Regions from separate parts of the Homo sapiens genome. Here region 1 is linked to region 2. A link means that fine-mapping ties the variant in region 2 to the expression of a gene that starts in the linked region. Tissue or cell type: lung. Region 2 holds a variant in brackets; the other region holds the start of a gene. All regions are shown on one strand. Distances are between the middles of the regions.

Region 1 (2,677 bases), 490 kb before region 2:
CCAGCCCCCTGCCCGGTATGGATGGACGCTGGGCCCTGCTGGATCCAGAATCCATCGTGAGGTGAGATGGGATTACGACACCAAGCCCATGCCATGGGGTGTGCTGAGGCCAGCAGTGCTGAGGGGCGGCGTGGCGGCACCCTGTCCAGGCTCAGCTCCGGCCTATTGGCTCTGCGGTTCCTGGCTGAAAACCACCCTGTAGCCTCCTGAAGCTCACCTCCCCAACGGGGCAGGAACAGGCTGGGCTGCCACCACGCACATGTGCCTACCGTCAGAATGTCACAGTCACTGGACACAGGTGCAGGCAAGCCTGAGTCCAGCTGCTCCGTGTCCACCTCCCTGGCTCCCCAGGTTGGCAAACGGTCCTGCTGTCCACCCCATGCCCACACCAGAGCCCTCCCTCCCCCATCCAAACCATCGCCTGCTCTCCTGGAGACACCTCCACCCACCCCTCTGTCACCTGCCCTGTGGGTCCTGGGGCTGGCGGAAGTCTCAGGAAGAGGCCTCCTATGTCCCTGCCAAGCTTTGTGGGTACTGGGACCCCAAGTCTGCTGGGGGAGCAGCACTCAGACACTAGCCTAGCCCATCCGCCTGGACTTGGGACAGAATTCTGAGAATATGCCTGGACGGGGGCCCCATCAGGGCCAGCTGGGAGGGGAGGAGGGTGACTGGCGTCTGTCTCCCCTGCCCAGACAGTTCTGGGACGTGAGGCGCCCTTTTTCCCAGGCTGCACCAGCTCACTGTGGAACGGCCATGACACACTGTCCCGAGGCAGCACCGAGAGGGCCCAGCCCGCTGCACACAGTCACCCTGGGCCGGCAGAGCCGGAAGGGCACCTGACCTTTCCCTTGATCTCGGAAAACACCGTGGCGTTAGGGAGGCGGTGCTTAGAGGCCTGACTGGTCCCACGTGAGGCCTCGGGTCTGTCCTGTTTGCAGACTCCAATGTACTTTCACTTTAAACATTCTTCTCAGCGACGTTAGGCAAAGACTTTGCTCCCAGGACACCAGGTGCCCAGGACACCCTGGAGCCTGGGCTGAGCCTGCTGTTTGCACGCTGGCCCAGGGTGTGCGAGCTCCAGTCTCCTGGCGGGTGTGTTGGGGCAGTGAGCCCAGCCTGGTAGGTTGACACATGCAGGCTGGGCACAGCACCCCTGGGGCACAGAGCGGGGGTCCTGGCCCTCAGGCAACATTGCAAGAGTTGTGTCCCCTTCCCTGGAAGACCCCACCACACTGGGTCCCTGGATGCCCTGAAGCCCACCCCAAGCCCCTGGGGTCCAGGTGTGTGGAATGGGGACAGTAGGGCCACCTGCCTTGAGCCTGAGGGTGCCCCTAAGAAACCACGAGTCCAGGGCATTTCTGGCCTCGGCTCCCACGCCCCCCTCTGCTGCAGCTGAGATCTGGGCCCAGGATGGTTCTTACCTGAGGGAGTCCTCACAGGCGCGGAGGGCCCTGGGATGACGAGGGGCTGGCAAGACCACCGAGGACCGCAGGGCCCTCTGGCTCCCGCGAGCAGCGGGGAGAGTGGGGGTGGTGGCGCCAACCTGCAGGCAGTGGTCTGTGCCCTGGACTCTGTAGTTCAATTATTTACCTACAGATTGCTGAGTCATGGGTTTCTCCAGCCATGTTACCTGATCGGCTGATCCGGGAGTTGAACTGTAATCAGGGGCTTGTAGGAGTTAGAGCTGTGTGGGCCTCTGAGGAGCTCCCAGCCTCCCAGGAGCCGCTGCAGCTGTGGCTCTGCGGCCCTGCCGGGGGGGCTTAGGGACCAGCGGGAGGCGGGGGCTCAGGGGCTGAGCACAGGTAAACCTTCAGCTCTGGGGTCTGGGGTCGAGTGCAGCAGCCTTCAAACCCAGGCGGGGCTGAGGGAGGCTTGGTCTCCGTGTCCAGTCGCCGGACACCCTCCTGGTCCTGCAAGGAGCCAGCCTGGTCCAAGCTGGAGCAGGGCAGAGGCTGACAGCCGGCTCAGCCCAAGGCTGCCGGTGCGTGCATATGCGTGTGTGCTCGCGTAAGCCCTGTGTGTGGTGCTCACCGCCCAGGGCGAGGACTGCCGGGGTCAAGGTGCCGTGACTGGCCAGGAGTCCTGGTCTGACTGGACCCAGCACCGACCCACAGCGCCTGGTCACCCTCACGGCTCCTCTGCCCTCCCCTCTACCACAGACCAGGACCGGCAGTGCCTGCCTCATAGGGCTGGGGTGAAGATAAATGATTTTTTTAAGTGAACTAAATTAGGCCCACACGTGAAAATAAGGGTAAGCTGCTTTTTAAAAGGAATTATTAGCCAGGCACGATGGTTCACTCCTGTAATTCCAACACTTTGGGAGGCCTAGACAGGAGGATCGCTTAAGGCCAGCAGTTCAAGACCAGCCTGGTCAACATAGTGAGACGCCCCCCACCTTTTCTTTTTTTTTTTTTGAGGCGGAGTCTTGCTCTGTCACCCAGGCCGGAATGCAGTGGTGTGATCTCGGCTCACTGGAAGCTCTGCCTCCTGGGTTCACGCCATTCTCCTGCCTCAGCCTCCTGAGTAGCTGGGACTACAGGCGCCCGCCACCGCGCCCGGCTAATTTTTTTTTTTTTGAGACGGAGTTTCGCTCTGTTGCCCAGGCTGGAGTACAGTGGCATGATCTCGGCTCACTGCAAGCTCTGTCTCCCGGGTTCAAGTGATTCTCCTGCCTCAG
Region 2 (2,677 bases):
AAATGACGTCCAGCAAGAACCATGGGAGTCATACATGGACTTAACTTGGTGGAGAAAGCCCATTTGTGTCTTCCAAGATTATTCATGAAATCCCTACATACAATTTAAGAACCTAATAACTCATTAGAAGTGTAACAAATAATAGACTTGTAGGCTCAGCTAAAGCCCTTGACAGCTTAGCTCCCCTAGCCTGCCAAGAGCCAAGGGGTTGGGGCAGAGATGGCCCCGTCCCCTCATCAGAAGGCAAGGCCACCTTCAGAGTGGGGAGTTACCAAGTGTGGCAGAATCAGGCTCAGTGAAATGAATTCGGCATCTTTCAGGGAACAGAATCATTGAGCTTACAGACTAAATTTAACAGCCTAATAGAAATATGCAGGTGAAGGTACAATTAATTTTAATTACTAGACTATACATTGTTGGTTGCACAGCCATGAGTAAAATTAAAATGGCAATCACAATTAGAAAATTGCAACCTCATTGTGCAACAAATTAGTCACAAATTAAAAGTGCGGGGCCATTATGCCTTTCCTTATTGCTTTAGCTCCGTTCCTGCTCCAGGCGGCCTTTGTCCCTCAGGCCCATCCTCTGCCTGGGAATTTATCTCAGCTGAGATTACTGGCGCCATCCCAGGAGCATCTGCAGGAGCGGGAAGGGGGACTTCCTGTCACCATAGCCTGGGGCTGATTTCCCTTGGTGCTGGCTGTGTAGGGGCGAGGAGGACGTGTGAATTCACAGGGCAGCCTGGGAACCTAGCCCAGGTAAGGACGGGACCGCTCCCTAGGCCAACACCCCCTGGAAAGGCATGCAGCTGAGCCTCCACCCAAGGCCGACTCTTCACCCTTCCCTTCCAGGGCTCTTGTCCACAGAAGTGCTTGGCTTCCCCATCAGGAGCAGGGCTCTAAGGATGCCCTTTCAGGGGGCACAGCCTTGTCAAGGAGGGAGCCTACCTGGGTGGCTGCCAGCCCCAGCAGAGGAGGAAGGGACAGTTTAAGGCTGCCTTCAATGTCCTCCATGGCTTGGGGATGGATGGGGGTGCCCATTTAGAAAAAGAAGGAGCCACTGGTGAAAGGGAAGCCATCAGCCAATGGACCCCCCTCCTGGCTGCTGGCTCTGCCATCATCCACTTTCCAATCAGTCCCTATTTAGGGCACCTCTTACCCACCTAGGCCTGAGAGAACGGGTGGCATAGGGCCTACGGAGAGTCTTCAGAGACTGGCTCCTAACTTCAGGGCAGATGTGGCCTTGCTCTGCCAGAGAAGCTGCCAGACAAGCTCCAAACTGCCCCCAAACCCAATCCCAACCTCCAGGAGGGGACTGCCCCTGCCTTCAGTGGAATAGAGAAGAGTGGAATCTGCACGGACCAGCACGTGCCCGTCTCCAGCGCCGATGCTGTAATGGGTGGACCCAGATGGTGACCTGGAGGGGGTGCTGCAGCCAGGTAGTGCTCATTCCTGTGAGTATCCAGTGTGGGCAGAGAGCCATGAGGGGGATCCCAGGTAGAGATCACATGGGGGCGTCGTGTTGCCTGGTCTGTTCCAGAGGCCTGTCAGTCCTGCTGCCGTGGGCTGCACCTCTCCATGCCTGTCACTGATGCTTGACACTAGCTCCCACTTCCAGCTGCTCTCCTCTGGCCAAGATTTTGAATCTGTTGGGGTGAGCTGACTCATGGC[C/A]CCTCACGTGGCTTGTTCCATTCTACCCCAGGCTAGACTATGGGTGTCTGCGATGTGATCACAGTCCCAGTTGGCAGAGAGAGGGGGTGAGTTAACAGACTGCAGACAGGAAGAGGGAAGAGTTTATTCTTCCAAGGAGCTACTAGCACGTTATTTGTGCCAGTATGTACCAGGACCCCAGCAGCAATGGGGCAGCCATGGTCCATGCCCTCCCAAAGATGCCAATCCCCAGCCAGAAGGCACTGGGGCTGCCCCTGGGAGCAACACTGTGTGGGAAACACAGAAATGCCCAAGGTAGAGGGCTTCCCTGTGTTGGAAGCTCACAATACAGTGGTCCAGCTGCTGCTGGGTTCTCCACCCAGCTGGTCCATCTAATCAGCAAGTGACAGAAACAGCCTAGTTTTATCATCTTTGTGTTTTCTTCTCCTTCATAGAATCATTTGTTCATTGACTGTTGTCTTAGTCCTGCTATAACAAAATATCACAGACTGGGCAATTTATAAATAACAGAAATTCACTTTCCACAGTTCTGGGGGCTGGGAAGTCCAAGATCAAGCATCAGCAGGTTTGATGTCCGGTGAGGGCTGCTCTCTGCTCACAAAATGGCCCTCTGTTGCTGGGTCCTCACATGGTGGAAGAACAGAATAGAGCAAAACCACTCCCTCAATCCCTCTTATAATATAAGGGCCCTAATCCCATCCATGAGGGCTCCATCCTCCTGATTTAATCCCCTCATAAAGACCCTACCTCTTAATACAATTGCATTGGTGACTAAGTTTCAACACAAGAATTTTGCAGTCACATTCAGAACATAGCACCTGTCTTTGCTCCTAGCCCATACCCTCCATGGGTAGGGGGGGTCATTCAGTCTTGATTCCTACTGGACCCAGCCACCCAGGCTACACACACACCAGGTAGCCACAAGGAAACCCACTGGGGGTGGCAAAGCCCCAGGGCTGGCCACAGGGTGGGCTTGATGGATGAGGGCAGGAAGCTGTCACCAGGGC

Evidence for each region. PIP is the estimated chance that this variant, and not a neighbour inherited with it, causes the effect.
Region 1: it holds the start of SLC26A1, and the variant in region 2 is fine-mapped to the expression of SLC26A1 in lung (GTEx, PIP 0.95).

Annotation. Positions count from the first base shown.
Region 1 is chr4:991,880-994,556 of GRCh38, forward strand. It overlaps SLC26A1 (solute carrier family 26 member 1), which reads right to left and starts at 1,525. Exons shown (of 3, transcript NM_022042.4): 1 at 1,422-1,525. All of the region lies in intron 2 of IDUA (alpha-L-iduronidase), which reads left to right. RefSeq lists enhancers at 862-1,673, 1,674-2,485.
Region 2 is chr4:1,478,289-1,480,965 of GRCh38, forward strand. No RefSeq gene overlaps it. Among named protein-coding and RNA genes, the nearest start is that of NKX1-1, 73 kb to the left of the region's middle. The variant C/A (reference allele first, on the strand shown) is at 1,671.